Linked DNA regions of Homo sapiens: regions 1, 2, 3 and 4 are each linked to region 5. The links come from fine-mapping of genetic effects on gene expression. A gene starts in region 5. Each other region holds a variant in brackets. All regions are shown on one strand. Distances are from middle to middle. Region 1 overlaps NEMP2-DT (NEMP2 divergent transcript). Region 2 overlaps MFSD6 (major facilitator superfamily domain containing 6). Region 3 overlaps NEMP2-DT (NEMP2 divergent transcript). Region 4 overlaps NEMP2-DT (NEMP2 divergent transcript). Region 5 holds the start of NEMP2 (nuclear envelope integral membrane protein 2).

The links.
Region 1: its variant is fine-mapped to the expression of NEMP2 in testis (GTEx, PIP above 0.99). The same link has a PIP of 0.9 or more in sun-exposed skin.
Region 2: its variant is fine-mapped to the expression of NEMP2 in T cells (TOPMed, PIP 0.98).
Region 3: its variant is fine-mapped to the expression of NEMP2 in whole blood (TOPMed, PIP above 0.99).
Region 4: its variant is fine-mapped to the expression of NEMP2 in monocytes after Pam3CSK4 (Quach 2016, PIP 0.95). The same link has a PIP of 0.9 or more in monocytes after LPS.

What each region holds. Positions count from the first base shown.
Region 1 is chr2:190,564,492-190,569,596 of GRCh38, forward strand. NEMP2-DT (NEMP2 divergent transcript) reads left to right here. Exons shown (of 5, transcript NR_183903.1): 2 at 3,582-3,784. It also overlaps a transcript of NEMP2 not described here. Among named protein-coding and RNA genes, the nearest start is that of NEMP2-DT, 32 kb to the left of the region's middle. The variant G/A (reference allele first, on the strand shown) is at 2,922.
Region 2 is chr2:190,460,720-190,465,824 of GRCh38, forward strand. All of the region lies in intron 3 of MFSD6 (major facilitator superfamily domain containing 6), which reads left to right. It also overlaps a transcript of NEMP2 not described here. Among named protein-coding and RNA genes, the nearest start is that of MFSD6, 55 kb to the left of the region's middle. The variant A/G (reference allele first, on the strand shown) is at 2,595.
Region 3 is chr2:190,596,796-190,601,900 of GRCh38, forward strand. The region is part of intron 4 of NEMP2-DT (NEMP2 divergent transcript); the gene reads left to right. It also overlaps a transcript of NEMP2 not described here. Among named protein-coding and RNA genes, the nearest start is that of NAB1, 50 kb to the right of the region's middle. The variant A/C (reference allele first, on the strand shown) is at 2,886.
Region 4 is chr2:190,633,645-190,638,749 of GRCh38, forward strand. It overlaps NEMP2-DT (NEMP2 divergent transcript), which reads left to right. Exons shown (of 5, transcript NR_183903.1): 5 at 4,702-5,105. It also overlaps a transcript of NEMP2 not described here. Among named protein-coding and RNA genes, the nearest start is that of NAB1, 13 kb to the right of the region's middle. RefSeq lists enhancers at 3,539-4,273, 3,809-3,878. The variant A/T (reference allele first, on the strand shown) is at 2,348.
Region 5 is chr2:190,532,290-190,537,394 of GRCh38, forward strand. NEMP2 (nuclear envelope integral membrane protein 2) reads right to left here and starts at 2,433. Exons shown (of 9, transcript NM_001142645.2): 1 at 2,270-2,433. The coding sequence starts at 2,366. NEMP2-DT (NEMP2 divergent transcript) reads left to right here and starts at 2,549. Exons shown (of 5, transcript NR_183903.1): 1 at 2,549-2,832. RefSeq lists a silencer at 2,097-2,746.

The DNA of each region.
Region 1 (5,105 bases), 32 kb after region 5:
CACAAAAATTTGCTATGCCCTCTTATGTATTTTATCACTTTCTCTCTTGAATCATATTTAATCTTAAAGCTCTTAATGGCTCATAGGACTTTTAAGGCAGATCTATATGATTTAACTTTGTATCCCCACCTAAAGCAAAGCTTCTCACGTAAAAATCTCCACATATAAAAAGGTGCAAGCTGGGTGCAAAAGCAAGAGACAAGTAAGGACCTCTTGGCTCATTCAACTGCCACATGGTGATAGAACTGCCACTAAGTTTCTAGTTGCTGGATTCTCGCTAAAGATGGCAGAATGAACACAGGCATATCTCTTATATCTCTTCTCTCAATAGAGAACAGGAGAGGGGTGATGAGTAGATGAGACATTTCATAAATATTTGTTGGAAAGAGAATGGAGGAAGGTTAACTGATGTAAAAGGAGAGAAAGCCATAGTCTAAAGTGTGTGCAGTGGGGTGTACTGAAGATAAATAAGACATTTCACCTTGAAGACCTGAAGGAAGCTCAAGACTTGGAGTCATCAGTCTTGGCAGAGAGTGGGGGTGAGGTACGGAGTGCAAAGTTTGAGATAAGTTCAAAGCTTATGTATGGAACAGTCAACTACTCTTGTGCCCCAGATACAGAATATCAGCAGCCAAGCTACTCCCTCCTGCTCCAGGAGGAAATACGAATTTTTTTTTTAATCAAGAGACACCCAGTAGGAATGGCCTGAGCATCAGAAAAACCAAGCCTGATAGAAGAAAGAAGGCAGGAGGACCTAAACAATCAAATGAATTGCAAGTCTGCACTGGGAATGGTTGGATTATCTGTGCTCTCTCCCCTCCTACACAATGAAAGCACTATTAATCAGGGAACTAACCCCTAGGCCAATGTTTCTAAATTGTGGGTTATGAACTCAGTTATGATTAGTGGAGTATAAAATCTGTTTAATGGGTCATAACCAACATTTTCTTGGGTTGGGTTCCTTGAGAAGCAGACTTTGAGGTGGAGTTGAGAGTTCAGAACATTTATTAGGGTTTGTCCTTGGGACCAATATCTGTGGAAGGATACAGAATTGGACAAAAAGAGAATGCGAGCTGTGATACAAGACCCAATGATTATTTCACCCAGCCCCACGAGGAGCACTGAAGCTAGACTGGCTTTTCAGAGTTGTCCCACACCAGGCCAAGATGTCCAGGACTTTATTCTCTGTCATAGGCTGAATTGCATCTCCCCAAAATTCATATGTTGAAGTCCCAACACAGAGAACCTCAGAATGTAGCCTTATTTGGAAATATGCTCTTTGAAAGGATGATTAAGTTAAAACAAAGCCATTAGGATAGGGCAGTAATCCAGGAGTATTTGTGTCCTTATAAGAAGAGAAAGACACACAGGGACACCCACATGTACAAAGAACAGTGAGACTTCCAGCCACCAGAACTGTGAGAAAATTAATTTCTGTTGTTTAAGCCACTAAATCTGTGGCATTTTGTTATGGCAGCCCTAGAAAACTAATATCTCCCCCCACCCCCCAACCCTTACTGGATATGGCCACAGGAAGTATGACCCTGGGCAAGGCAGCTCTGCACTGAAGCAATCCCTGAAAAGGCCAACAACTGAAGAGTCCCCACCAGCAGCCATCTCACAGTCTGGGGCAACTAGTCCCTTCATTGCAGTGTATCTAATGGATATATAATGGTCCATCACAAACATGAAAGAAAATAAAATTCAGTAGACTAGATAGAGAATGTCAGAGAGCATTCTATGAAGAGAAAGTAAATATTGTTTCACAAAACATTTTTGTCTTTATAAATATATGTGAGTGTGTTGACTGGGACTTGATGAAAAAGAATTTCTTACTGTCAGGTTTACTGGGCACAGTGGATCATGCCTGTAATCCCAGCACTTTGGGAGGCTGAGGTGGGAGGATCACTTGAGCCCAGGAGTTTGAGACCAGCCTGGGCAGCATGGCAAAATCCTGTCTGTACTAGAAGTACAAAAAATTAGCTGGGTGTGGTGGCTGAGGTGTGAGATCACCTGAACATGGGAGGTCGAGACTGCAGTGAGCTGTGATTGCAACACTGACTCCAGCCTGGGCTACAGGAGTAAGACTCTGTCTTAAAACGGGAAAGAAAAGAAAGAAAATAAAAAAGAAAGGAAGGGGAAGGGAAGGGAGGGGAGGGGAGGGAAAGGGAAGGGAAGAGAAGGGGAGGAAGAAGGAAGGAAGGAGAGAGGAAGGAGGGAAGAAAAGAAAGAAAGAAGGAAAGAAAGAAAAGAAAAAAAAAGAAAGGAAGGAAGGAAAGAAAGATTCAGAAGTCACTCACCTAGGAAATATAGGGGGTTTTTTCCCCAAAAAAGTTAAATATACAACAGATAACAGGTTTTCCATACCATACAAAAGTGAAACCCATCACTCTACAAACACCGTCTACCCACACAGAGCTCTTCGTCAGCTTTTGAGTGCTCTATTCTTAAATATAAGTCGGCAAAAAAATACCATGAGGCATGTAAATCATACCTCTAACCTAAAAGAGAGGAGGAAACATGAAAAACAGAAAATGGAATATAAAGGGAAACTATAGAAAATAGAAAAATACTGTTTAAATGCTAATTTATAGCCTGAAAAATTATGAGATTTGTATCTATAAAATAAAAGCAGAATGCGATGATAAAAGAACAATTAGATAAAAAAGGAAGGAGCTCTTGGAAACTAAAAATATAATTTTAAAAACTTCAGTAGTAGGAGTAGGAGATAAAGTTGAGGAAGTCTGCTGAAAATAGAACCAAAAGATGAGTAGATTAACAATAAGAAAGGAAAGGTATGAGACTTAGACTATCCATCTAGTAGGAACAATATCTGACTACAAGGAGCTCAAGAAAGAGAAGAAATGGAGGAAAAAGTATACAAGAAAAGTTCCCAGAACTGAAGGCTATGTCTAAAAATC[G/A]AAGGTACCAAGTACTCAACACAACAAATAAAAAACGGCCCACACCAAGGCACATCATTGAGATGTGTCAGACCATTGGGAATAATGAGAGAATCCCAAAAGCTTTCAGAAGAAGAAAAAAGAATTAGTCTTATGCTAAGAGTAGGTATCAGAATGCATCAGACTGCTTGCTCAACTACAATATTGGACTAGGGAAAGCAATGAACGATGCCTTAAGAATTATGAGGGATAATTTCATTTATTTATTTATTTATTGAGATGGAGTCTCGCTCTGTCACCAGGCTACAGTGCAGTGGCATGATCTCGACTCACTGCAACCTCTGCCTCTTGGGTTCAAGTTATTCTCCTGCCTCAGCCTCCCAAGTAGCTGGGACTACAGGCATGCACCATCATGCCCAGCTAATTTTTGTATTTTTAGTAGAGACAGGGTTTCACCATGTTGGCCAGGATGGTCTCGATCTCTTGACCTTGCGATTCGCCCGCCTTGGTCCCCCAAAGTGCTGGGATTACAGGTGTGAGCCACTGCATCCAGCCAGGATAATTTCTTTTAAACCTAGAATGCAATACCCAGCTAAACTATCAATGAAGTGTGAGAGCAGAATAAAGATAATTTCAAACAGAGGAATTCAGAAAACTTATGTCTCATGTATCCTTTTACAGGAAGCTACTGCAGGATATAATCTAAGAAAATAAGGGGAAGAAAACAAGAAAGAGGAAGACATTGGATCCAAGAAATGGGGGATCTATCACCTTACAGATGAAAAGAGAATCTACATGATCTTTGTGAAGGTGATTTGAGCATAGCAGCTCTGCAGGAAACCTGGAGAGCAACAAGTGAGATTAATACAGGACACACAGCTCTAGTAAGGATGTCACTAAGGAAATTAAAATCATTTGTTGTAGAATACTTTATGAATCAATGCAGTAAGAGGAGGTTTACACTTCTGGTGAAGAATAGGGAATGAATTTGTGATAGGCATGTAGAAAATTATGCAAACAAATAAAATAATAATCAACTCCTGGGAAAATAGGAATTTGTACCAAAAGTGTCAATATAATCTTATATATATATGCCTCAGTTTTGAATAATATTTGTCATTTTAATTATGTAAAAACTGAATAATTATCGGCCGGGCACAGTGGCTTACGCTTGTAATCCCAGCACTTTGGGAAGCTGAGGCAGGTGGATCACCTGAGGTTAGGAGTTCGAGACCAGCCTGACCAACATGGAGAAACCCCGTCTCTACTAAAAATACAAAATTAGCTGGGCGTGGTGGCGCATGCCTGTAATCCCAGCTACTCTGGAGGCTGGGGCAGGAGAATCGCTTGAACCCAGAAGGCGGAGGTTGCTGTGAGCCGAGATTGCGCCATTGCACTCCAACCTGAGCAACAAGAGCAAAACTCCATCTCAAAACAAAACAAAACAAAACAACAAAAAACTCAATAATTATCAGAGAAAAACACTGTAATATAACTATATTGAAAGAATAAGAAGAGAATGTAAGAGACTAAATCCGTATCTCCCACAGAAGGGAGTCATAGATAATAATATCTGGAACTGAAAAAAAAATCAAGAAACAGCAGTTTAAAATGTGGAGATAAACACCAAAAGAAACAGCTGAGGCCAGGTGTGGTGGCTCACACTGAAAGACTTGAGCAAGTTTGCTTTTGGGAATGGAAATGGAATTAGAACATGCAGGTTGTACAGGGAAAAGGGCTGCTCTTTGTCTTTTAGACTTTGAGGAGCTATTTGGCTTTTAAAGCTCTGTGCATTTATAACTTAGATGGAAAATATAAACAATTTTAGAAAGAAAAATGACAATATATGTATTTTTGAGATATGGAGGCAAACATTCTAAACGCTAAAAAGAGAAAAGCTTGAGAGTGGTTTCTTTTGGGGAGCAGGACAGGAGTTGATTTTCACTGTAATTATTACTAAGCCATTGATTTTATAGAGTTGTGAGGCCATTACCTTGAGACAAATTTTAAATAAAAAAAGGAAAGTCCAGGAAGGAATTCAGGCATGAGGACATTTAAGAACTTTGAATTTTAGCTTTGTTGCTTGTAGTTTCCCAATTTTAAAAATCTTTAACATCTTCCATACCAGGAGATAAGCAGTAAATGAGAGAACACATTTGGAAGCTCTTGGTAGACTGAAAATAACTAAGGGAGGTTCCCTTCTTT
Region 2 (5,105 bases), 72 kb before region 5:
GATGGAGCTGGGTGAGAGCTGAAGAATATCAAGACACAGAGACAGGTGGGGATGGTGGCCGAGTGAGTCCATTTGTCATCCCTGCGAGTGGGAGGACTGAGAGCTAGGCAGTGTTGTGCCAGACAAGGTGACAAGGAAAGATGTTTTATAATAGAATCTTCTTCATATCAGCAATTTTGATGCAGATGTTCCTACTGTGTTACGTAGACTTTCTGATGATCCATGCAGCTCTTGAAGCAAACAAGCACTCTTGTTAAGTCTGACACAGAACACCATTTCTTTGTCCAGGAAGAAAATGATTATGGCAACACTATTTCCTATGTCTTTCTTAACTCTTTGGACAACTAGATGGTTTACCCACACCCAATCTCCCAAGAGTTTCAAAAGAAAGGAATAATTTAAATATGAACTTAGCTAGAATGTTGTATGGTTTTGAAGCCAAAATAGAAACCCAGACAGTGATCCCTTCAGGTTGAGAACCATGGGTCAGACATCACACATCATTTAATGGGTCTGTTTCTACTGCATGAAACACAGTGACTTGATGTCTGTTCATTCTTTGAGAAAGTAGACATGCACTTGGAAAAACATTCAAAAGGTATTTAGTAAAGTCTCTCTCCCACCCCTTGGGCAGTCCCCCAATTCCTCTCCTTAGAGACTATCCATTATATGAGGTTCTAGTGTTGTATCCTTTTAGAGATATTCTGTTCATATGTAAGTATGTAGCTGTATGTGTCACTTCCTTTTTCTGACATAAATATTACAATACTATACTTAATATTCTGCAATGTCTTTTACCTTGCTTTAAATGCCAAACAGTTCTGGAGGCTGGGAAGTGCAAGATCAAAGTGTTGGCAGGTTCGGTGACTGGTAAAGGCCTCGTTCTCTGCCTCCCAGATAGCACCTTGAATGCTGTGTTCTCTCATGGCAGAAGGCAGAAGGGCAAAAGGGGGAAACAGCTCCCTCACACCTCTTTTACCCACTCATGAGGGCTCCACTCTCATGACTTAATCACCTCCTTCATACTATCATCACATTGGTGAATTAGTTTCAACATATGAATTTTGGAGGGTATACAGACATTTAAACTGTAGTATCTACAATCTATGATTTCTACCAGTTTTAATTTTTTTTTTAGTGTGGAACATGAACCTTAATATACTTTCAGAACAATCTGAGAGCAGAAGTCTTTTAATTTAAAAATTTAAAGGTTGCCTTTCCCATGCCTAATTTGACAGTACTTTTTTCCCTACCACTTAAATCTTTATTATTATGTGATTATTAGGAAGTACATAACTCACTATACGAACTCAAAATCTACAGAAATATACTCCTTAGGCGATGAAGGGCCCTATCATCGCAGATTTCCAGGATAATCATTGTTCGTGATTTGCTGTCTGTCTCCTTCTTGGTTTGTTTTTGTATTAATATAATGTGAATATGGATATGAATTGATTCCATATTGAGTACACATACAGACATTTTATGGAGAAATGGGAACAGAATAACCATTGTTTTAAGAGATTTACCTCATGGTTCTCAACAGGAGCCATTTAAAAATGTGCACAGGACAAATTTTAGTGTTTCAGACACTGGCATTTAGCACCCAAGCGTCAGGGATTTTAAACATCCCACAGTGAATGGTGGATCCCACACAATAAAGAATTGCACCATCCAAAATGACAGTAGCTTGTTGAGAAATACTGTTTTCATGAGAGTAATGCTTCCTTTTGCCCTCATATTTTATCAGTTTACATAAGATTATATTAAATGATGTTATGGATTCATGGAGTGCCTGAGCAAGGCAGGCTCTTTTTGAGTACAAAGAGGAAGAAGACATGGCCGTTGTCTCCCAGGGTCTCAGTCTTCAGTGTGCAACAGACTGTGATGAGTCCTCTAATGGAAACAAAGAGTGTAGCAGAGGAACAGCGGGGGACAGGAGGACTAATTATACCTGGAGACATCTTGGGAGGCTTCTTGGAAGGGATGATTCCTTTCAACAGTGGGACTCTCAAAATCAGAGGTACCAGTGCCCCAAGTCATATCTTGGAAAAAGGGAGAGAGATACTGTCAGCCCTGCTACTTCTAGATAAGCACTTGGTCTGAACATGAGCTGTAGCAGCTCCTGCCTGTTGCTCAGGTCACTGATTCTGTGGCCTTGTCTCCTCTCCTCTCTGGCCACTCTTACCACCATTCTAGCACTAGAGGAGGGTACCATGATGTAACTCAGGCCACCTTCTTGGGATGGGAATCCCAAGGAATGCCAGCTGTGGTTCTTTCAAACCAGCCAGTCCTGGAGTGGGACACAGGATGCAGGAGATGCCATGGAGAGGACAAAAAAAGGGGAGAGAAGACAAGAGATTCCAGACAGTTACAGCAAAACCCTATTCTGCTAGTGAGGGACACAGAAATCCTGGCAAGATATCCACAGTAGCATATCATGGAAGATAGCTGGGAGGAGGGGGACAGTTATGAGAAAACAAATTTTCTAGACTAAGATTTAATTCTTTCAAGGCCTATCCTTTATATTTTAGTTATTTTCTAAAGAGTTTGGATATATATTTTCTTACTCTCTTAAACTGACAATAGAGAAC[A/G]TCATCTTATTCAGGTCAATAGTGTGAATCAGTGATTATGTAGAAATAAGCTTCATTCCTGGGGAGGAGGGCACATCAAGTGCTTGTGCTGAGCACAGGAGTCTCCACTCTAATCAGCAGCTGATGTCTGCCACTCTGCCTACTCTAGGAAGACATCTATAACAATTCTGAAAAAAAAATTTTTTTTAGGGACAAGTTTATATAGACCATAAAAGGATAATCTGGGGCCAGGTGGATGGCTCATGCCTATAATCCCAGCAACTTTGGGAGGCTGAGATAGGAGGATTGCTTGAGCCCAGGAGTTCATGACCAGCCTGGGCAACATAGTGAGACTTTGTGTCTACTAAAAATCAAAAGTTAGCTTGGCGTGATGGTGCACACCTGTAGTCCCAGCTACTTGGGGGGCTGAGGTGGGAGGATCACCTGGGCTCTGGTGGTCAAGGCTGCATTGAGCTGTGATGACGCTACTGCACTCCAGCCTGGGTAACAGAGCAAGACCCTGTCTCAAAAATAAATAAATAAATAAAATAAAAATAAAAAGCTGAGAATGATGGAGCCCAATCTAAGGGCGCACCATATACTGTCTACCATACAGAAAACGTAATCCAGTTTATATATGAGGCAGACTGTAGACTGTGCTCCAGGGATCTGGTGTCAACAACCAGCTCTTTTCATTAGGAAATCTAGTAAAAACTCCAGCCAGGTATAGCTGAGGAAATTGCCCAAGTGGTCTGTGACCTGTCTGAAACATTGCTTTTTGAATCTTGGTTTGTTGCTGGTCTGTCTTCATCTCCCACCCTGGCCTCGAGCAACCTTGTATGCATTGGTGTGCGTGCATCTTTGCGTGAGGGCTTGCAACACAAACTGTAGACAAGTGTCAGTCTAACGGCAAATACTGAACTTCCAAGTGATAAAAAACAATCTTCATCTGGGGTCTTTCATTTGTATCCAGTGTATTATTATAATTATTTTGGGAAGTTTTGTTTCTCTGCCAGGGGCTTTGCAAAATGCTTGTTGCCATCAGTCATTAGGTGAATAGGGGTTCTCTGGTGGTGCTGCTCTTTTGCGTCTCAGATCTGGGCATTGTAGAATAACTCCACTTAGGTCTTTCTTTGCTGCTCACACCCTGTGTTGTTTCTGGAATAATATCCAGACTGTATCTGGACTGGAAAAGTTCACTTCTTTCTTCAAAAATCCTTAGACTGTAATCCTTCTTGTGTCTTTCAGTCACCCTGTCTGGCCACAGATGCTTGAGATTCTATGGTGAACCCTTGTTCGCTTTGTTTCCTCTGCCTGTGATGCTCTTTCTGCCCTCTTTGGCCAACCACTTCTAACTCAGGTGGCCTCAACCCCCAGGGTTGGCTAAGGGTCTCTCCTGTGTGGTCCCATTGCACTCTTTGGATATCTCTTAGTATATTATATTTAACTTATTTGTTTATGTGTTTGTCTTCCCAACTAGGCTGTAAGTCCCTTGAAGACCAAGTAGATTTCCTCTTCATTTTTACTCCCCTCACAGTATATGGTAGATAGTGGCATCTTAATAAATGTTTATTGAGCAAAATTTATGTTCACTGTGGTTTTTAGTGGCTTTTGGTGGGGGTGGGGGAGGGTGGATTTAGCCATATTATAGTTGGTTAAATTTAGAAAAGTAGGGTCTCACAACTAACTACACTGTTAGGAATTACAGAATGACTCATAATTCATTGTATCTATATCTTGAACACTCTTGAAAAAAATACCAGTTTTATTATAAGATAACCACAAATCAGCTTAAACTGCTAATACTGTGAATTGTGCTTATATAAGAAATTAGAATCTGTAACAATTTTTTTCTCCTACTCTTGTAGTTTGCTCAAATACAGGATAAAAAACGAGTGGCAGGTGATTTGGGTTTTCCACAGGGTAGTGTTTTCTGCTGCATCATTTGCTTCTTATCAATTGTGTTCCTCTTTATAGATAACTTCAGTTTACCAACCACCTGTTCTAAAATTGCCTTTGTTTCTTGTCTATTTTTATTACTACTGACTTCCTGTTCTGAAATAGGACAGTCATGCTGTTTTTGAGTTTTATCATTATAGGTGTTCAGTAGGTATCTATATCTCGTGGAGAGACTTTTTTTTTCAGTGTCTTGTATTTCCAGACATCAGTGCCCATAAGATTACTGATTATACATCAGTAATCTTATGTATAATCTTATGTAAAAAAATTCTAGGACCCTGAACATATGCTCATATTCAGCATAAAAAAGAATTTGATTGTCTAGAAAATGATCCAGTAAAATATGCTTTAAATTCCTTTATATTAGCAAATCCCTAACTGTATTAGAGTGAATGTGTTCATTTGCTTGGGTTACCACAAAGTACCACGGTCTGGGTGGCTTAAAAAACAGAAGTTTATGGCCGGGCGTGGTGGCTCACGCCTATAATCCCAGCACTTTGGGAGGCCGAGGCAGGTGGATCACTTTAGGTTTGGAGTTCAAGACCAGCCTGGCCAACATAGTGAAACCCCATC
Region 3 (5,105 bases), 65 kb after region 5:
AAAACAACTAGATTTGGAAATCTGGTATACAAATGCATATAAATATACAAATGACATTTATACATCCCAACATACTCATTCACCCATGAATATATATATTTGGCATCAAGTCACTAAGCATAAAAATGTTGTGGGTGTTTACAACTTTTTAAAAAGGATTATTTGCATTTTCTTTTAAGTTTTCTGGACAGGCACAGTGGCTCACACGTGTATCCCAGCACTTTGGGAAGCTGAGGCAGGGAGATAGCTTGAGCCCAGGAGTTCAGGACTAGCCCGGGCAACATAGGGGCACCCCACCTCTACAAAAAAATTTTTCTAATTAGTTGGGTGTGGTGGTGTGCTCCTGTGGTCCTAGCTACTGAGCAGGCTGAAGTAAGAGGATCGCTTGGGCCCTGGGGAGTTGAGGCTGCAGTGAGCCATGATCATGTCACTGCACGCCAGCCTGGGAAACAGCAAGACTCTGTCTCCAAAAAAAAAAAAAGCTTTCTAATTTCTAAAATAGACTGTGTGAAGAGTTAGGAATTTGGGCTAAGAGATAAAGGGGAGAAAAAAAAAGCCCTGGGAAAAGAATTGGAAAAGTCTGAGTATAAATATAGTTTTTGTACTTTTGGCTGAAGTCTCTTAGAGCTTGTGAATAATAAAGACTACATTACTATCCACAAAATAACTTTCTTGGAAAAAAAATGTTACCTGAAAATTACTTGCTGTGTTGATGAGGGCCTGGAGAATGAGAAGACAAAAAGAGCATCTAACTGAAAGGGGTAGTAGAAAGAATGTCCGTGTAGCAATCAATGTTAAAATGTACAGTAAAAACTTCCAGGACAGAATAAAAACCAAACTGATGGAGGTGCCCAACACAGTAGTTGCGAATCCCAGGCTAAGGCACAGCCACAGTTCTAAAACCTTGGAATAAAAGAAACAGTGCCTCTGATTATTTATCACGATGCTTTCTTCAGAACTTTTATTTGAGGAGATGGGGTGAGCAAAGAATTAAAAAAAAAACAACTCTGAGCATTCTTTGCTCATCCAATTTGAAAGTGGAATTTCTCTACTGGAACTGCTGATTTGTAAGGCCACCAGTTTACATGGGTTTCAAAGGGCTTTAAGAGTTCAGTTATGAAAATATTCTACTTGTTTATGTTCCAATACCATACACACACCTATCCCATTTATACCTCTAGGCTAGTGTTTCTCAGTCTCTGAACTATTGATATTTGGGGACAGATTCCTCTTCATTGTCTTCTTCGTTGTGGGGCCATCCTGTGTATTGTAGGATGTTCAGCAGCATCCCTGACTCCACCAACTAGATGCCGGTAGCACCTTCCCTCTCTCCCTACCGACAACCCCCATAGGACAAACAAAAACATTTCCAGACATTGCCAAATGTTTCCTGGGGAGGGGAGAGCAAAATCACCCCTGGTTGAAAACCACTGTTTAAGGCTGAGATGAAGACCTTTAGTGAGAGGGAAGAGAAGACTCTTGGGAGAATAAGGAAAATGAGGGCTTCCTCCAGAATTCAGATATTTATTCTCCAAATTCTTCTACTTATGGAAGTTACTCAAAGATGCTTACAAGTGTTTTTAGGAAATTGATCTTATTCCAAGGCAAGCCAATATTACAAATATTATTTTAAACTGTAACTTATAATTGCTTTTCTACACTTCTTAATGGATATAAGCCTTTGTCTTAAAGAATGCTATTGATTCATTCATTGTTTTCATAACTTGTGGCGCTGCCAGCCTTCCACTTGGAATGGCATCAAGTCGTGTTTTGCTTTCATCCCCAAAACTTTGCAAACTACTTTGAGGCATTGCTGAAAATACATTTTAGTGGAATAAGTTAGGCTTTACTGCGATTCTCAAATTTAAGAACCCATTTTATCTACTAGCTAGCAAAGCAACCATTTTAAATTGGAATGTAATAGTTACCTAGATCCATGTTGCCATGTTGCTGCACAGACTTAAAATATTTTACTACCAGTGAAATTGTACTTTGCATATAATACTAACCTTGCCAAATAACCTTATGACCAAACCTCATATCTTGAGTGACTAACGTTAATATACCTTAATCTGAAGTTTAAGAGTACTCCCTTATTCAGCATTTACATCTTATCTTGATTTATATTTTTCTCCAAATAATAGAAAAACACTGCAAATGGTGTTTTGTTTTGTTTTTAGTGGCTCTCTAGGCCCCTTTTTCTCAATTTGTTTCAACCAACATTTATCAAACAAGGAGTATGGGCCAGGACTTGTGCCAACTTTAAGCAGATTTTAGTCATAAAATCAGATGTGTTTCTTCTAAAATCATGCTGTAATTTATTCTCCATTATTTTGATATTAGTGAAGGTTAACTACTGCAAAAGTTATCAGTTTCTCCATCTATAAATAGAGGACAGAAATCAGGAAATAGAAGAGAGAAGCTATAAAAGGCAGGCTAGATTTGTACAAAACTACACATCTAGCTTATATGACTCAAAGATGTGGTGAGAATTCTGTTTCCTGTCACTATTTACTACTTGGCATCAAGTAGATGAAAAAAAGCTGAAGCTTTTGGGCTAAACTTTTATTTTCATCTGGATAGATGGCAGGCCTCGAGGAACATCACAGGTAAAACTCTTGAAATGTCTATAACTTCAGATGAGTTATGGACAAAATATATACTTTCTGGCCTATAATTTGTTCACTGTATTTTTCCATATTTGCTACTGATTAGTAATATATTAAGTATCAGTCAGTAGGAATAGTATTAATATTGCCAATGCATTTAAAAATTTTAATTTTAACTATAATTTTTACTTGCTTTTTGATTCTGTGTCTTTTACTTTAGGTGCTGTGCCCCTAGTCAGGAATCGGTTTACTTGGCTGTGTAGGAGTTATGTAAAA[A/C]TTTCCAAATGATATAAGCCAGGTGTTCACAGCTCGCTATGCATCGAAACTACACTGGAAGCTTTCCAAGAGTAGGTGTCTGTTACCTATAGCAGGGATGACAAAGATGGCACGTGGGCCTATTTTCACTGTCCCTTAGGCAAGTCATCTTCACAAACTCACCGACCTTGCAGTGCCCCATCCCCCCATCCCAATCATGTTCCCTCTCCCTCACCTGGGAGGACTATCCTTGGCAAGAGTCAGATCCAATGACCTCTTCCTGCACTGCTGTGAAGAGTTTATGGGAGCACAGCGGCTTTCACACACACTCTCCTGCTGTACAGTGCCATCCTAGCTGCCCCTGTGTGTGTCACTTCCTACATCTCTCACTGGTCTGAGCGGTACAGAGCAACTAGAACCTTAGAAAATTAGTTTTCGAAGGTTTCTTATCTTAGTTCTGTATGTCACAGTACACAACACACTTGCCATCTTAGCAGTGGTATTTTACAAACATTCCCTCTTGCTCTTCCTCTCATTCCTTTTCCTGTTGTTTCTAACTCTCATTGCTTGATTATTGGCTCTTCAAGGAGAAGGAAGAAATAGGTTAAAACCCAACTAGAAGATACTGGGGGAGGAAAGGGGACTCAGTAGAGTAGAGTACAAGGGGAGGGTTATCAGTGTTAGTCTTAGAATGAGGCTAGTGCTGCCAGACTAGAAATTATTTGTCTGGCGTGTGCTATTGTTTGAATGTCATTTGTCTTCGCCAAAACTCATGTTGAAATTTAACCCCCAGTGTGGCCCTGTTGGGAGGTGTGGCATAGTGTGAGGTGTTTGGGTCATGGGTGTGGATTCTTTATGCAGGGAAGAATGCCCTCCTTGGGGTGGGTGAATCCTTGCTTTCCTGGAGAATGGATTAGTTTCTGAGAGACTGGGTTGTTAAAGAGAGTCTGGCTTCCTTGGTTTCTCTTTTGCTTCCTCTCTTGCCATGTGATCTCTTTGCACGTGCCAGCCCCCTTTTCACCTTTTGCCATGAGTTGAAGCAGCCTGAGGCCCTCATCAGATGCAGATGCCCAGTCTTGAACCTTCCAGCCATCAAAATTGTGAGCCAAATAAGCCTCTTTTCTTTATAAATTACCTCAGCCTCAGGTATTCTGTTATAGCAACACAAAACAGACTCAGACAGTGCAGGAATGTGCGGTGGCAGCCATGGCCCAACATGTGGTCAGGTCTTAGTGGTGTGTTCCCCAGCCCTGGCGGCCAGCATCCCTGCCCACTTGTCACACAGTGCTAGTACCTTCCTGAGAAGGCTGCTCAGAAAGCTGAGCAAGTACAAACAATTGATGTGGGTTGAATTGTATCTCCCTAAAATTCATGTTGAAGTCCTAACCCCTAGTACCTCAAAATGTGACCCTATGTGGAAATAGGGTCATGGCAAGTGTAATTAGTTTAAGATGAGGTAATACTGGAGTCAGGTGGGCCTGTCATCCAATATGACAGGTGTCCTTATAAAAAGCAACATTTGGAGACAGTCACATATACAGAGAGAACACTGTGTGAAGATTGGAGTTATGCTGCCACAAGCCAAGGAACCACCAGAAGCTAAGAGAAAGGCCCAGAACGATCCTTCCATAGTGCCTTCGGAGGAAGCATGCCCTGTCTGCACCCTGATCTCAGATTTCTGGCATCCAGAGCTATGAGACCATAGCTTTCTGTTGTTTAAGCCGCTCGCTTTGTGGTGCCTTGTTATGGCCACCCTAGGAAACTAATGCTGTGTAACAATGTGGCAATGGCAGGCCTACGTTGGTCTTGACTCAAAGCTCCTGGAAGGGTGCTGGTTTGATGGTGCTAAGAAATGTGTACTGTCCAAATCCAAACATCTGGAATGAAACCTATGTAAGTTGATAATAGACATATACATATAAGGAAATAAAAATATAATTTCCGAGCAACTCCATGAAAATAATGATTGCTGAAACTACTTGTTATGATACTTAACGCAAATGATAAAAACCTGTGGTCACTGTTGGGCTTCTTATATGCCAAAGAATCTGTTTCTCCAGGTACCAGGGCAATCCCAGGAGCTAAGCACTCCAGGCCATCTCCTTCTATAACTCAGCTCAACCAATGTTTACTAACCTGACCAAGTACTAAGAATTCTAAGCAACGGCAGTAGAAATAAAAAAAATCAGACACAATCCCTGCCATTAAGTAGCTTGCTGCATAGTAAATAATAAGAAAGGT
Region 4 (5,105 bases), 100 kb after region 5:
GGTACAATGCCTTCCTTGCAAATAGTATGTACTCAGCAAATGTTTGTTAAAAAACACATGTGTGTACCTAGCAATAGAGAGATAACATATCAATTAACTTGGCCTAGTCAAATTCTTTAACTTTATTAAAATAAAAAATGATAAGGCCAGGTACTGTGGTTCACACCTGTAATCCCAGTGACTCAGGAGACTGATAAAGGAGGATCACCTGAGGCCTGGAATACAAGACCACCCTAAACAACAAAGCAAGACCCTGTCTCCACAACAAATTAAAAAATTAGCCAGGCATGGTGGTCACATGCCTATAGTTGTAGCTATTCGGGAGGCTGAGGCAGGAAAATCGCTTGAACCCAGGAGTTTGAGGTTACAGTGAGCTATGATTGTGCCACTTCACTCCAGCCTGGGCAACAAAGCAAGATTCTGTGTCTTAAAAAAAAGAAAAGTATCAAATGTCTGTTGTAAGACTCCAGGTATTTACTATTTCAAACTTTTCTTAAATTTATTTTTAAAAAGTTCAGATGCATAAAATTATAAATAATAATATAATAAACACCCACATACCCAGCATCCATATTAAGAAACAAAACATTACCAATATAACTGAAGTCCTGTAAATTCCATCCTTAATGCACCCCTTTATGCCTCTACCATAGTTAGGCAAATCCTGAACTTGGGGATTAATCTTTCTAAGCATTTATTTTTATTTTAACCATATTACATATGTATTTATAATGTGTGTTTGTTTAATTATTTAAGAATATTCAATTCTGCTATACAAAATAAGAGAAACAAACACATAGGGAGAAAAAAATGAAACTAAGAATTGAAGCAAGTAGCTTATGAAACAAGCAAAATTCCTACAAAATGTAGTAGTGCATTTGCGTAATGAACATAATTAGAAAGAGATGGAAAGAACAAGAAACACCTAATAGTCATGATACATGTGAGGCCCTGAATCATCCAACTTTCATGACGCACTGAAGATACTTAAGGCATATCAGGCATTCCCTATTCAAAAGGTTTTAATCTGGCCAACCGTTGGCTCCTCATATCCTCTGCAAAAGAAATATAAATAAAATCCATAGCTGTTCATGAGGTTAACTGATGAGCTACTGCTGTCAGCTAGACCCACTCTGCTCCCAAGACTTTAGAGCAACTGTGTGTTTTGACCCTAAACACCCGTCTGTTGGGCTGCTTTGGTTAAATCTCAACTCTGATCTTTGCAAGCAAACACTTGGTTAGGAAGGCTGATGTGGCAGGGAGAGACAGGACTGAGGATTCAGGTGTTGTCATCTTTCCACCCTGCCTCCTGTGACACATCTTAAATGTGTTAACCCCCTCCATGTCTTTCACCTAGCTTCTTATGGTGTGTTTTAAATTGATTTAATAAGCCACGTGATTTGAGGATTTTGTTTTGGTCCATAAGCCTTTCTTGTTCTGTGATCCCTTGAATAGCTTGCCTGTTAGTGTACTTACAGGCTACCATTGCAGCAACAATGGTTGTTGTTTCCCACACAACAATAGCATTTGCAAGTTTTTAACCTAGATAGAAATATATTCTACACATTCATCTGCAATCTTTTTTTTAAGAGACAAGAGTCTTGCTCTGTCACCCAGAATGGAGTGCATTGGTGCAGTCATAGCTCACTGCAGCCTACAACTCTTGGGCTCAAGGAATCCTCCCACCTCAGCCTCCTGAGTAGCTAGGACCATGGGCATGTGCCACCAAGGCTTGGCTAATTTTATTTTTTGTAGAGCAGGGCCTTGCTGTGTTGCCCAGGCTGGTCTCAAACTCTTGGCCTCAAGAAGTCTTCCTGCCTTGGCCTCCCAAAGTGCTCCCAATTTACAGGCATGAGCCACTGCGTCTGGTCTTGCAACTTGATTTTTGGTCAACTTGATCAACATCTTGTTTGTGAGATTCTTCCATGGGAGATATGCATATCTATTTCATTCATTTTCAGAGCTATATTCATTGAATATTTCACAATTTACCCATAAATTCTTCTGTTGATCTAATATACATCATTTCCAATTTTTTCTATGCTGCTGTGAATATTCTTGTATGTATCTCCTTGGGCACAGGTAAGAGAGCTTCTCAGAGACTACACCTAGGAGTGCAATTTCTGGGTCACAGAGTATGCACACCTTTAACTTAACTAAATACCACCAAATTGCTCTCCAAAGTGTTTGTACCAATTTATACTCTTAACAGAAGTAAGTTCCTATGTTGTTTGTTTTTTGAGACAGGCTCTCACTCTGCGGCCCAGGCTGGAGTGCAGGGGCATGATTATAGCTCACGGCAGCCTTGGACTCCAGGCTTAAGCAATCCTCCTACTTCAGCCTCCCC[A/T]CTAGGTGGAACCACAGGCGTGTGCCATCATGCCTGGTTAAGTTTTTATTTTTTGTAGAGACGGGATCTCATTATATTGCTCAGGCTAGTTGCTAACTCCTGGACTCAGGTGATCCTCCTGCCTTGGCCTCCCAAAATATTGGAATTAAAGGCAGTTTCTATGTTCTTAATCCTAGCCAACACTTTGTGCTGTCAGACTTTTAAAATTTTTACTGATCTGATGAATGGATGAGCTCTGCTCACAAAGAATCATCTTATGGCATTTCCTTAGTACTTTAATTATGAGGAAAAAAAATCTGTGCAAATTTTGTGTCAGATTTTTGGATTTTCTCATTCTCTGCTTAAGGCCAAGTAAGGTTTCCTCTTTCTATTTCCATCACTGTCAGCAGCAAAGGAAAAACTTTGCAACAAAACTTGTTATATTTTTTTCAGAAGGATTAAAGTTTGGAAGAATACCATATTGGAGGCTTTAAGTCTCAAAAATATCCCTCTGATTATACAGGGGCATAAGAAAATGAATTTAACTGCATCCATGCAAATCAATCATCACTAAGCGTATGTCGTAATGACGGTAGGTCAGTAGTGGAACAACTATGACTCACAGGCTGAGAATGCCCTCATTTAAGAAATTCTACAAAGTTGCTCCCTACCCCAGAATATCTACCCCAGGGGCTTGTTCCATGTCTCAAATTCAGCTACTAAAGTGCTGAAGTCCAAAATTTTCATATTTAAGAAAACTCCAAAAGAAAACACATCTCAAAAATCATATTTAGTACTTATAAGTCATTAGCACCTTATTTGTCACATCTCTTAAAAACACAAAAGGAATGGGACACAGAACCTGCAAGTGCTAATAAGGCATAAGGTGGAGGCCACCCTCAACTTCTTCCTCCCCCTTTATCCAGAACATTCAGACAGACAAATCTCTGTTCTTAGCATCTTGCTTAAATCTTTTCGATGGCTCCCCAAAAGGGCTAGCAGTGTTCTCCAAGTGTGGTCTAGGGGTCCCTTCTGGCTTCAGATCCTTCACTAAGGTAATCATTTAAAAAGTACAGATTTCCCAAGTGCCAGCCCAGGCCTACTTAATCAGTATGTCTGACAGGGAGATCCTGGAATCTGTTTTCAATAAATAATCCAGCTTGATTTTCTTAAAAATACTTTTTCACAATTGAGAAGTATAGTGTACAGTAAGTACAGAAAGCATAAATGTGCAGTTCAATGATTACAAAGTGAACATCCACATAACCATGGTCCAGAACAAGAAAGAGGGCCTTGCTTGCCAGCACTTCAGAAGCCCCCTTGTTCCCCTTTCAATCATTTCTCTCTTCTCTTAGTTGTATCTACTATTCTCATGTCTGACACTCACAGCTTGATTCTTGCACTCACTGGTGCTGAGAACTACAGCTACAAGATAAAGTCCACACTGCTTAGCGTGTCAGAGGTGGCTCCTGCACAATTTGGTCTCTACAATTTCATCTTCTGCCTCTGCCCTCTTCACATGTAATTCTCAAGTCATTTGGAATCAGTTATGCTTCATTTCACAATAATTTCCCTAAGTTACTGCTCATGTTTATGCTGCCTCACTGCCTCTGTGCTTCTGTACTTGCTGGGGAGTGCCTGCACTTCCTGAGTCTATTAATTTCATCCTTCCAGACCTGTCCAATTGTTGCTTGCTTACAAGGCCTACTGACTTTCACCCCTCTGCCCTACCCAAACCAGAACCATCACTCTTTCTTTGTGTGACTAAGAACATCTTATAATGTGTGCAAGTGCTTGTTTACATGTGTATTCCGCTTTCTAGACCAGGAAATAGGGCAGAGATTTAATTTTCTTGTGCTTATAGGCTTAGTGTGTATCCCTCAGTCAGTGCTTAATTGTTGAACAAGCAAATAGTCTCCAGGTATAAACATCTTAGGAAAAGTAGCACACTGCAACCTTAATACCTCTGGGTATATTTGGATCAGATCACGTTCTTCCTTGTCAGGAAACAAATGCAGACATCAGTAACACACTGGGTGCCCGAGAGGGAGGTGAAAGTAAGTGAAGAAAGAGGGATGAAACACTGCAGGAGCGGGAGCAGGGGAGCTAGTGATGTTGTCTGAAGGGCTGCCAGAGCCTACAGAGCAAGGAGTAATCAGAGTGCTCCCGGCAGCACTGAGCCTTCCCTTCTTTCTCAGAGAGGACTCCCAGTTGTCAGACCACTGTGCTACATGGGGAGCCTGGACTGTTCCAAATTCCTTACATCTTTTCCTGCCTCTGATTGTCCTCACATTGTCCATCTTCTTCTCTGAGTATCCATTCTGCTTGCAAAATGCCACCTTTTAAGTAAGTAACCTGCCTATTTTTGACCCTAGCATCAAAACTCCTATCCATCCACAGTATGTGAGTGGGAGTGGAAGGCGACAATAAGCCACACAGAGGGGCCTTGTGTAACTGCTTGGTGCTCAGAGGATCTGGACAGAAGCATCTGGGCAGCCTGCCACAGGAAACTTCACAGCAATGTCAATAGTCCTGACGAAAACGAACCTTGACTGCTGGGCAAACTGAGAGGGTGGAAGGACAGAAATGAGCATCACTTGAAATCTACTGATGCCGGAAAAGATATTGTAAAGCAAAATTTAAAATCAAAAAGTAGTTAATAAATTTTGGCCCCTTCTACTGTATGGGTCTGAAAGACAGCCATCACTGGTGGTTTGATACCTGGGGAAGGGGTGAGGGCAGCTTTGAGTGGAGATGATCAAGGCAGGTCTGGAGCCCA
Region 5 (5,105 bases):
TTTTTCTTTCTCCAAGAATATGAGAATGAAACTGGAATTAGTATATACTCATGCACACTCAGGTCTTTAACTTCAAGTTCAAATCTTCACAGATGAATCTTAAAGCTGTGGTGTCAAATGGACTGTTATAGTTTAAGCCTGGAAAGCCACTGACAGGGCCTGAACTTCATCTCAGGACAACACATGGTTTCTAGGGACCTCACTAACTGGGTGAAAATTATGGGAAACTCTTGAAGTTTCTCCTCTCAGTCAGACAACTACCTGCTCCTCCTGTGTCAACTGTCTCTGACTTTCCTCCAAATAGAGTGACAGAAAGCTGGGGTTGGTCTGAATGTTCTCCATTCCATTGAAGTGTGTGTTATTCAAGACAAAATTTTAGAACAGGAAGGCACCTTAGGTATCACTAATCCAAGCCCCTCGCTTAAAGGAAGTACCAGCTGTTTCCTCTCAGGGTCCTCAAGAAACCATAGACTTTTAAAGAGCAGCTATGGTTCTTAAGCCTAGTCTAATCCAGGGCTGCCAACAGTGTCACTGGCACACTACCAGATGCTGGGCGCTTCACAGTCCGTATTGGAAAGCCTACCGGAATGGCAGGCATCCCTCTAAGGCTACAAAAGTTGCCATTCTTCTTAGCTGTGGACTAGTTTTATCAAGTCAGTGGGCATCCTGCATGTCTCAGGCAGAACAGAAGCTCCAATAAGTATTTATGTGTGTCTTTGATTAACAAAGCAGAGAAGCAGGCTGTTACTATTATACTAAATGCGGTAACATAAAAACTTTAAAAACACCAGGTTCACTGAGGTGAGGAAAATACTGGAAACTCTTCAGTAAAAACATCTTCATTTTACTCAAGAGAAAACTACGGTCCATAAAGACTCTGTGCCTGGACCAAGGTTATACCACAAGTTGTGGCTGAAGGAATGAGTGGTCTAGAACCCAAGGTGCTGGGTGCTGGTCTAAGGCTACTTCTAATTTTCTCGCTGTTGCCATGCCCAGAAACCTTCCTGCTTAGACAGATTTGTGTTTTATTTTTTCACCAGCATAAAATTGTTGTATTTCTTACTACCAAACCTTCGTTTTCTCATCTGTAAAATGGGTATAAAATGGTGCTTTCCCGCATAGGGCTTCTATGGGTATTAAATATGATAGATACTGCAGTTAAAGCACTTATAACACTGCCTAGCACATACTGAACACTCAAAAAATTTCTCTTCAATGAAAACTGGAATCCAACACTTCCCCAACATATAACTCACTGCAAGATTCCCTCAGTTGGGAGCTGTGGCAGAATCTGATAATGACCTCATCAACATCCAGTCTCTCATTCATCCTTAGATAAAAAACCGCGGTATAACCGGAGGGAGGGCCATGCCCAGCTAAAAGAATACACTTGGCAGCCTCCCTTGAAACCAGGGTAGCCAAAGCAAGGAAGGGAAGTTGGTAGACAGTGCACCCAGGAAATCTTTTAAAAGATTTTATGAGGGGAAAAAAAAAAAGAAACAGAAATGTGAAGCTCATGGTAAGTTAGCGGCAGGTCTGGAGTTGGAACTCTAGGTTTCTGACTTCCCCAGGTGTCCTTCCCAGATCCTTCCCCAGTGTGCCAGCATCTTAAGCCCACTCCGTGGCGAGCCCCTACAGCTAGCAGCCGCTACCAGTTCTTGCTTCCTGTGTGCCAGGCATTGTGCACACGAACACCACAAGAACCTTGTGAGGCCTCATTACCTGCCGCTCACGTGGGACCGTTATGTTTACTCGCTCAAGGTCACAACAGTCAGGGGCAGAAGAATTTTCGCTCCGATTCTGAAGCTGAAGCTGTTACCTTCTCTAGTCTTGAGACCAAAGGAATGCGAGATAGTGAAATAACAAGGATTTCAACACGCATTGATGTACTGTACAAAAGGCCGTGTGCTGAAAGTCTGGAGACTAGGGTCAGCTGTGCCAGTGACAAGCTGTGTGACCCTGGGCAAATCAAAACCTCTCTGAGTTTCGGTTGCTTCTGTAAAACGAGGGAATTGGGCGACTGGATCGCGCGGTTGCTTCTAATTCTAAAATTACAAAATGTCCAACTGCCAGGCGAGAGACTACGGAAGCCCAGTAAGACAGGAAGGGCGGGCGGGGCCTGCCCGGGAGACCCCAAAGCGAGAAAAGGGAGCGCCCGCCCCAGTGGGCCTCGCGGTGCCGCCCGGGCCAAAGAGCGCGCCCTCAGGGCAGCCGCGAAGCCGGGGAGCGAGCACGCACGCGCGCGCCGCCGCCGCCGGTCCCGGGTTACCTGATAACGCTGCCGCCGCCGCCTCCCCGCGCACGGGCAGTGTGGCCAGGGGCGGCAGCCAGAGCAGCAGCCACCACCGCCCTTGGCGCGGCCCCATTTCGTTAGGGGTCAGCTCCGTGCGACCCGAGCCCTAGGGGACCGGCTCCGCTGCGAGGAGCGGAAGTGGCGCGGGGGCTCAGAGAAGGCGGAGGGGGCGGTGAGGCCCGAACGCGGGAAAGGCGGAGACCCCGCCTCCCCGGGGCGGAGGGAGAGTTGGGCTCGTTGCTCCAGCCTCCGCCCGCGGCCTCGGGGCACGGCGGGCCCAGGCCGGAGGAGCTTTCGGTGGCGCGACCCCGCTGGCATGCTCCCGGCCTCGGCCTCGGCCTCGGCCTTGGCCTCCGGGCCTCCAGCGCACGCGGGGCGTCCAGGGCCTCATCTTCCCCTGGGGACCGCCCGGCCGTGTCCCGCTGCCCTCGGCGCAGGGGTGGGAGTTGCAGAGAGGAAGAGTCGCTAACCCGGAGTGTTTCTTAAAACTTGGCTGACCTGTGACCTGCGGATTTGGAGGCTGAATTCTCCGAGCACCTGTGAGTGACAGCCCGTGAATGGGAAGGTCCTTCGGCAAACGCCCTTTTTGTGAATAAAATACATAAAAGCCAGTTTCTTTATTTTACCTTTCTGTTTATCTTTTTACTTTCATTTGGTAACAAGCAATAACAAATTGGAAATTTGGCCGCTTAAGTAACACTGACTTGTATGTCTAATCTCGGACACGGCATTTCAGAGTACAGAGGGGCTCGTAAAATGTTCCTTCACCAACATGACAAGGTTCTCTTAAAATTACCTTATGTTAAAAAAAAGTTTCTTAATGTAATAGATATATTTTTAAATTAACATATAACCTGAATGATCTTAATACTGATAATTAGGAGATATACATATATTTTAAAGAACATTCCCTCCACAGGACCTGGAACCCATTAATTTGACTCAATATTCCATACTTAACTAGGACAGTCTTCTCTAATTCTGGTCTTTTGGTGAGATATCTTAGAGAACCCAAAGTAACAGAAATTATCCTGTTAAAAATAGATAAGCCTCATTTTTCCTAAAAGTCTGAGTAGGATGGACTAGGCTTTCCTTGCCCTCAAAGAAAGGTTTAACCAACTGCCCTTAAGCACTTGGCACCATGTGTACACCATGTATGGCTTTTAAAAAGTTAAGAAATTTCCTTGTAAGGGACTCTTCAGAGGGATGGTTTTTAAAAATAAACCATCATTACTTGAGTGAAGCCTGTCTTCAGAGAAACAGCAGAGCCCTGATCCAATTCTTTCCTGTATTCCCAGGTGCGGTGTGCACTTGCTTCTTGCAAGACAGCTTTTGTACCTAACCACATTCATTTTGATTTGGTTTAATTTTGGATGGCACTATGGAAAGTAGCTAAAATAAACAGGTGGGTTGTTGAATGATGAATGTATTTTCTACAGATATATCTGGTGGAGAAACAAAAGGGCAGGCAGCAATGTACTAAATATTTAAAGTGCTATTTATATCACAGATCCTTAGTAAATATCTGTAAAGAAGCTATATTGAAACACCACATTTTTCTCTATAAGCAATAAATATTTTTCCGGAGATAACAAGAATGTTAGGAGGTGATAGTTCTGTCACTGGGGGACAATCATGAAATTCCACTTAACCTCTCCAAACTTTTCTTCTGTATGAAAACCTTATCCACTGGGGGAAGGGCAGGAAGCTTTACCACCAACAGGATCCTGGCAAAGACCCCCTGCTTCTGGAGAAGAGATAGAAGCACAAACCTTCTGCCCTTTGGGGAGCAGCAGGAGCAGGAAACACTAGGGCTCTGTGTCCTGAACCAATAGAAAATTGAAGTTGGCTACTGCTGGGAAACCCTCTCTCACTCAAGACTCACCACAGATAAAGGAAGGATTTGGCTGCAATGGGAAAGTGTCAGGAATACTGGGAAAGCCCCACATCTAAGGTTCAGGTGCACAGGGCCTGCCTAAAACCAAGGCAGGACCAGGAGTGTGAAAAACCCCTTTTCCCCACTACAAGCCAAGCACCAGTGACAACACCAGTCAACTAGTGAGGAGGAAAAAGAGTGGGGAGAGACCTCTCTGTAACACAGGCATGCAAACACTGCTAAAAGCTGAGTGAGGGACACTGAGAAAAACTCCCCAGCACTCTAGGTTCCACACTAAAACAATGCAATAGTAACCCCCTGCTAGAGGAATCTGAATGAAGCCTGTGGTACAGAGTGAAGGCAAGGATAACAACAACAAAACCCAAATTCAGCACAACTCCTGACTAGATTGACTCAACTACCCACATTATTGACTGGACAGAAGAGGCATGTTTATTTCTGGACATTAATATTATTTACCTCAGTTGTTACTATTCTCCTACATGTGATATCCATCATTTGATCAAAAATTAAAAGACACCCAAAAAAGCAGAGAGGAGAAAAAATCAAGAGGTAAAACAGAACCAGATTCAGAAATGACCCATATATTGGGCTAGAATTAATATGCTTATAAAGCTAGTGGAAAAGGTGAACAATATGCATGAATATATATAGAGAATTTCAGCAGAAAGAGGAAAATTACTTAAAAAGTGAAATGGAAAGGCTAGAAATTAAAAACACCGTATCAGAAATGAAGAATTCTTTCAATGGGCTTATCAGCAGACTGGACATAGCTGAGGAAAGAACCGGTGAATTTGAATATAGGTCGATATGGTTTGGCTGTCTCGCCACCCAAATCTCATTTGAATTGTAGTTCCCATAATCCCCACACATCGTGGGAGGGACCCAGTGGGAGGTAACTGAATCATGGGGGTT